2 linked regions of the Homo sapiens genome follow. The protein of the gene in region 2 purifies or fractionates together with the protein of the main gene of each other region. This does not show direct contact. Each region holds a gene or a part of one and is shown on either strand. Other genes may lie near its edges.

The links.
Region 1: the proteins of SCG3 (region 2) and IRGQ purify together in Homo sapiens (affinity purification with mass spectrometry; 2 studies listed by BioGRID and IntAct, with this or other methods). This does not show direct contact.

Annotation. Positions count from the first base shown.
Region 1 is NC_000019.10:43,586,095-43,589,918, forward strand, and holds part of IRGQ (immunity-related GTPase family Q protein), read right to left. Parts: 3' UTR 1-3,824. UniProt on the Homo sapiens protein: Autophagy receptor that specifically promotes clearance of misfolded MHC class I molecules by targeting them to the lysosome for degradation.
Region 2 is NC_000015.10:51,691,251-51,695,074, reverse strand, and holds part of SCG3 (secretogranin-3 isoform 1 precursor), read right to left. Parts: intron 2,917-3,824; coding exon 2,739-2,916; intron 1-2,738. UniProt on the Homo sapiens protein: Member of the granin protein family that regulates the biogenesis of secretory granules. Acts as a sorting receptor for intragranular proteins including chromogranin A/CHGA. May also play a role in angiogenesis.

The sequences.
Region 1 (3,824 bases), on a different chromosome or scaffold from region 2:
CCACTCACCCAAGTTTTCCATGCCTGTTCTGCTTTTGATGGCAATGCCAAAATTCATCATACATTTCCTTGAATTCCTGCCTTCAAGGGTCTTCCAGCCCTGTGGTGCCATGCAGACACACTTCAGTGGCGGCCAGTGATCTGTCTACAAGGGAGTCTTAGTCTTTTCTGCTTGGATGCTCCCAGGGACAGATGCCTGCCAACAACCTTATGTCTTCACAAAGACTAAAATGGAATCCCATTAAAAGTTATGATTTAAAAGGCGACCACCCCCAAAAGAAGTCATAACACTCAAGGGTGTCAATATATACAACTGTGTAAACACAACCAATCTACAACTATATCAACACAACCAGCACTCCTCTATGGGCACAGACACACACACAAAATTGTCTTGCTTTCTCAGATATGATCTCTGGCATGACTCCTGCTGGCATGAGGGCAGAGGAAATTGAGAGGAGCAAAGCATATAGCAGTGATGTCAGACAGGACCAAATCAGAGACAGGGTCAAAGTGGCAGAAAAATGAGGAGCACACTCCGAGCAAAGGCATGGGGGTGAGACAAAGGCACCCAGACTAGAGCCATCTTGGTGCTGCCCAGGGGTGGGTGGCACTCATGTTTGAGCTCCATGTGTCAGGCTTTTCAGGAAAGGGTGTACTATGTTATGTGTCTGTGTGCATATTGTGTGCCTGCATGTACATACATACGCTGAATTCTCACCATAACCATGTGAGGTAGATGCCATTTGTAGAGTGACTTGCCCAAGTCAGTGGAAGGACTATCTGCCCCTAGAGCTAGACTGATAGAATTTTCTATGTTGATGGAAGTATTCTGTACCTTCCCTGTCCAATACCATAGCCACTAATCACATGTGGCTACTCAGTATTAATGTTGCACTACTGCCAATGAAACATAGAATTTTAAGTTGTATTTACTTTTAATTGAACAGCTGAGGCCAGGTGTGGTGGCCCATGCCTGTAATACCAGCACTTTGGGAGGCCGAGGTGGGCGGATCACCTGAGGTCAGCAGTTCAAGACCAGCATGCCCAACATGGTGAAACCCCGTCTCTGAGAAAAATACCAAAATTAGCCAGGCATGGTGGCATACACCTGTAGTCCCAGCTACTCAGGAGGATGATGCAAGAGAATCAGTTGAACCTGGGAGGCAGAGGTTGCAGTGAGCTGAGGTCATGCCACTGCACTCCAGCCTGGGTGACAAAGTGAGACTCTGTCTCAAAACAAAACAAAACAACCCAGCAACTTGGTCAACATAACCAGACCTGCATCTTTACTTAAAAAAAAAATGGACACCCATCTCAGTTTTTGGAAAACTATTATATAATTGGAACAACTTGGATATGTGAATCTACTTCTCCAACTATGAATTTTATGAAATCAAAATAAAGGTCAAGCATTTCAGATAAAAATGTACCATGGTAATTGAGATTTGGTGTAAGTGTAAAATATATAACAGATTTTGAAGACAGCACAAAAGAACGTAACATAATTCATTTAAATAATACCGATGACGCCAGGCACGGTGCCTCACGCCTGTAATCCTAGCACTTTGGGAGGCCGAGGTGGGTGGATCACCTGAGGTCAGGAGTTTGAGACTAGCCTGGCCAACATGGCGAAACCCCATCTCTAACCAAAAATACAAAAATTAGTGGGCATGGTGGCGGGTGCCTGTAATCCCAGCTACTCGGGAGGCTGAGGCAGGAGAATCACTTGAACCTGGAAGGTGGAGGTTGCAGTGAGCCGAGATTGTGCCACTGCACTCCAGCCTGGGCAACAAAGCGAAGCACTATCTCAAAAAAAAAAAAAACTAAAAAACCGATGACATGTTGAAATGCTATTTTGGATACATTGGGTTAAGTAAAACATGTTAAAATGAATTTAACCTGTTTCCTTTTACTTGTCTAATGTGGCTATTAGAAAACTTGGCTTACTCAGCACTTTGGGAGGCTGAGGTGGGCAGATAACTTGAGGCCATGAGTTCCAGACCAGCTTAGCCAACATGGTGAAACCCCATCTCTACTAAAAATACAAAAATTAGGACGGGTGCAGTGGCTCACGCCTATAATCCCAGCACTTTGGGAGGCTGAGGCCGGTGGATCACCTGAGGTCAGGAGTTCAAGACCAGCCTGGCCAACACAGTGAAACCCCATCTCTACTAAAAATACAAAAATTAGCTGGGCATGATGGTGCATGCCTGTAATCCCAGCTACTTGGGAGGCTGAGGTTGCAGTGAGCCAAGATCGCACAACTGCACTCCAGCCTGGGTGACAGAGCAAGACTCCGTCTCCCAAAAAATAAATAAATAAATAAAATAAAAATACAAAAATTAGCTGGGCGCGGTGGCTCATGCCTGTAATCCCAGCACTTTGGGAGGCCAAGGCGGGTGGCCTGAGGTCAGTAGTTCCAGACCAGCCTGATCAACATGGTGAAACCCCATCTCTACTAAAAATACAAAAATTAGCCAGGCATGGTGGCATATGCCTGTAATCCCAGCTACTCAGGAGGCTGAGGCAGGAGAATCACATGAACCTGGGAGGCGGAGGTTGCAGTGAGGCGAGATCGTGCCACTGCACTCCAGCCTGGGTGATGGAGTGAAACTCCATCTCAAAAAAAGAAAACTTAAAATGACATATGTGGCTTGCATTTCGTTTCTACTGGACAGTGCTGCCCTGCAGCCCTCCCATTCCATCACGTGGCTGACATGCCTGATTGCAGGGCTTAGACACTAATATGATGGGGTAAAGATATGGATGAATATTCTTCCCCAAAGCTGAAAGAGCTTTCATGAAAATGCCTGGAGCCATTCAGTATAGAACTAAGTGCTCTTCCCCATGGTAGCTATCTCAACTTTGAAGGGACAAATTTTGTCAGCAGTGGGAGTCCAAGCTGGAGATGATGGTACCATCCCTTGTCTGCCCTTGGATCAGTTACCTTTGTCTTCAGCTTTTAAGGGAGACAGGATCTCAAAACTAAGGTTCTTATCCAGCTCTTTTATTTCACAGATGGGAAAATAAGGCACTGTCCAAGTAACACACAGTGACAGTGGCAAAGTCGTGCTTGCTTCCCAGGTCCCTGACCTCAGACAAGGGTGTTCTCTCCCATTAAATGCTTTTTTCTCCTCATCTTGCTCCATTTTCCTATCTTGTGGCAAGAGATTAACAATCTAAATTCCAATCCTAGTTCTGACACTGACCAATGAAATAAACATTTAGGCTGGGTGTGGTGGCTCACACCTGTAATCCCATCAAGGCAGGAGGATCACTTGAGGCCAGGAGTTCAACACTAGTGTGGGCTACAAAGCAAGACCCCCGTCTCTACAGAAAATTTGGTGCTGTGTACCTATAGTCCCAGCTACTCTGTAGGCGGAGGTGGGAGGATCGTTTGAGCCCAGGAGTTGGAGATGGCAGTGAGCCATGATCATCCCACTGTATTCCAGCCGGGGCAACAGAGCAAGACCCTGTCTCTAAAATAATAATAATAATAATAAATATTTACGAAGCACCTATTGTGTCAGGCACCTATTGTTCTAGATGCTGGGGAAACAACAGAGAACAGGACAGGCAACGGGTCAAAAGCCAATAAACAGGTAAATAAATAAGATCATTTTTGACAGTAATAATTGCTACAAGGAAACTCAACTGGCCGAAATGAATAGTGGGGGAATGTGAGCTACTTCAGATAGGGTGGTCAGGGAGGGGAAGTCCTCTCTGAGGGGATACGTGAGCTGAGATCTGACTGAGCCCGTCACAGGAAGGTTTGAGAGTAGAACAGGAAGTTGTGAGTAGAGCCTTGAAGGAAAGAGAACA
Region 2 (3,824 bases):
TACTAGCAGTTTCTTGGGAACCTTTTTTCTTTTTTTTTTTTTTTGAGATAGAGTCTCACTCTGTCACCCAGGCTGGAGTGCAGTGGCACCATCTCGGCTTACTGCAACCTCTGCCTCCTGGGTTCAGGAGATTCTCCTACCTCAGCCTCCCGAGTAGCTGGGATTATAGGCGTGCGCCACCATGCCTGGCTAATTTTTGTATTTTTAGTAGAGACTGGGTTTCACCATGTTGGCCAGGATGGTCTCGATCTCCTGACCTCAGGCGATCCGCCCTCCTTGGCCTCCCAAAGTGTGGGGATTACAGGCGTGAGCCACCGCGCTCGGCCTCTTGGGAACCCTTTGTATTTGACATTCTGTTCTGCATCTTGATGGAACAAAATGGATAATGATGCCATAATAGCTCAGAAAAAATATTAATTCTAAAATCAGAAAAAAAAATCTGTTTCCATTTTTGAAGAAAAGAAAAACTAAGATGCTAGAGGGGGAACCCATTTTCCCTATTCTTTGAGCTGCCACTGAAAGATTTTCTCTAAATACTCCTAGCCTTTCCCCCTTCCTCTTCATCCTCCCCCGCAGATATGGTTGGTAAGCAACAGCCATTAGCCTATGTTTCTCAACTGGTGGGGATTTGGAATCTTTCTTTTTTTCCACTTGCCTGGAACAGTGCAAGGCAAGAACCTGAGAAACGAGCCTGTTCTGCAGACCCAAATCATCCCTGAGACTGGCTGTTCCAAGATCTAGACGGAGGAGTAGGGAGCAAACAAGGCCACTGTTGGCTCTCACATGAAGCTATGTTCTGCAGCCCTGTGTTTATCAGCAACAGAGATGATATTTTGGTTTCCTACCTGCTTTATTCATTCTTAATTGGTTGAGACCCTGGGCAAGAAAGACAGATGCTAGCAAAGAACTCAGTATAAATATTTAAATTAAAATTATGGAAAAATAAAGACAATAAGAAATGAGGTGAGGGAAATGGAAAGATAAAAACAAGTAAGGAACATTTTATACAGTAGAATTTTTAAAAATGCCATAAAGTCATGGGTTGAGAGGGAGGAAAAATGGGAGAAGAGTCAGGGGAAGAGGTCTTGGAAAAGAACTGATAAATAGTAACTTCAGCTATCACATTATTTGCTCAAGGACACATCCGTAGAAGTATTTGGCATCACGCTGCTGCTCTTCACTGATGAGAAGTGACTCACCAGGATGACAGAGGTTCTGAGTAGGGCATCTGCCAACCAATGGGGCAAGATGGCTCAGAATGGACCCTCAAGATGTACAAGCCCTGCAGAGCCAGCAGAGTGGCCGGTGCCATCTGGCCAATGTCTGGAATTGAAGCACAAAGGATGTTCTCCAGAAATGAAAGCTTATTTTAAGGTCACTTCTTGGGAGAAATAGATTACAATTATAGAAGTCTTTATATAAATGTTCAATCTGGGGCTGAATCCTTGAACAGGGAAAGAAAAAGCCATGAAGGCAGTCCAGAGCATCTGTTTGAACAATAACAACAGAAACATTGCACATTATTATCCTCCTTGCAGATTAACCAAAATAAACATGGACTGAATCCTCAGTTAACTCACTGCACATATGAGCAAAGAGATCAGGATGCATGAAATACTTAGCTTTAAAAAAACAAAAACAAAAACAAATAATTTCCCAAGTGTGTTTGAGGTTCCCAGATTCCTTCAGTCTAATGTTCTCCATTTTAACTCTGAAGTTAAAATGTTCATAAAGGCTGAAACTGAAACTGTTCATAAAGATCTCTTGAATAATATAAAAAGGATGAATTAGGTTTCATACACTGTTTCCATTAAGGAAAGTGAGTAGAGCCTTTTAAAGAAAGATTTGTTACAAATGGAAGGATTTCCTTCCTACTTTTGTGTGTGTGTATGACAACATGTATGCTAATAAAAAAAGGCAGGCAAAGAAAGACAAATACTGTATGATCTCACTTATATGTAGAATCTCAAATAGTCAAACTCATCGAAGAAGAGAGTAGAATGGTAGTTGCCAAGGGCTAAGGGGAGGGAAAAATGGGGAGGTGTTGGTCAAAGGGTATGAAATTTCAGTTATGCAAGATGAATACATTCTGGAGAATGTACAGCATGGTGGTGATAGTTAACAATACTGTACTGTGTACTTGAAATTAGCTAAGAGGGTAGGTCTTAAGTGTTCTCATCACACACACAAAAAGAATAAAAGAAAAAAAAGAAAAAAATGTTAACTATAAGGTGATAGATACACTAGTTAGATTCATTGTGATAATCATTTCACAATGTATAAATGTACCAAAACATCAAATTGTACACCTTAAATATATACAATATTTGTTTGCCAATTATACCTCAATCAAGCTGAGAAAAAAAGAGTTGCAATAAGAGTTGAGGTTGAACTGGGTCAGAGCAAGGACACTGCCTGGTTCATATCCATCTTTGTGCTAGGTCTTTTCCAGCACCTTGTACATAGCACACGTTCAGTATTTGTTTGCTGAACAAATAAATGAACCTTCTGTTAACAAGAAGATTAAATTATCCAGAAACATCACCTTTCCTAAATATTTTCATAACTGGCATGCTCCTTTGGAAAAAAAAATCGATGTGAACCCTTTTCCCCAAGCCCACAGTGTATGTCATTGGAGATTACATTTGGAAACTGAAAACAGGAAGAAAAGAACACACCCATACATTTCCTGGAATCACTCTTTCTGTTCCACATAATCACAACCACACAGTGGTTACCTGAATCAATACTTTTCAGTAGCGCATAGAAATTTGGGAAATATTGGAGTTCCTCAAAGTTGTCTTCACTGTAGGTTTTAGTTCTCCTTTCCAAGCCATTTGTCAAGGTTAATGTGTTAGATACTGTTTCATCGTTTTCTCCCTTAGCAAGACCATCTTGAATTGCTGCCATTGGAGTCTCCAGTGGGGAAAAATCAATAAAAAATGAACATTTTGTTAGAACTAGTGAAACTCCAGCTTGATTCCTTCCTTTGTGATGCCCTTAAATGTGAAGTGCAAGAATTCCCCCTCGTTTGCAAGCTCCTGCAGGTTCAAACCCATTTCTAGATATGTGTGCTCTTGTCATTTGAAAAGGTCATTGAAGCTCAGGGAAAGGTGCTCTACCTCAGGGAAAACCCCCTGAAGACCCCAGCTCCTGCTCAGGGGAAAAACGGGAATTTCTGGGCTCTTTCTCTGGCCATGTTTACCTCCATAAATTATCATGAGTCTCCCCAGGAAAAACTGCCTTTTAATGAAGAGGGAAGCTTTGAGTTCACAGAATCCACCAGGAGGGCTGGTGCCAGGATACAGGAAAGCCTGTTAGAATGTCTATCCCTAGCAGAGCAGTCACACCTGGGAATTTTTGGGTAAAGTTTAAGTGCTGTCTGGATGAGTGTACAAAATCTTTCTCTCAGACCTGGTTTTTGTTCAGTGACTTGCATCTTAGTAAATGGTTCATTCTCCATTCAGTGAACTAGATAGAAATTTAACAGCCTTTCTTGCCTCTTCTTCCTTTTCCCCCATCCAATCCATCAGTAGCCTTGTTGGCCCCACTTTCAAAATTTATCCCAAATTTGCACATTTCTCCCTCCACTATGCCACTCTAGTCCAAGCAGCCTTCATTTCTCACCTGCTAACTGCAACATCACCCTCCCCAAATCTATGCCCAATACTGCGTTTCCACATTATAGCCAGAGTTATCTTTTTAACAATCTGATCATGTAACTCCTTTGCTTAAAATTCTTCAGGGGACCAGAAAATTCTCATGGTTCTTACAATAAAGATCAGAGTCCATCCATGGCTCATAAGGCGCTGCATGGTCTGGCC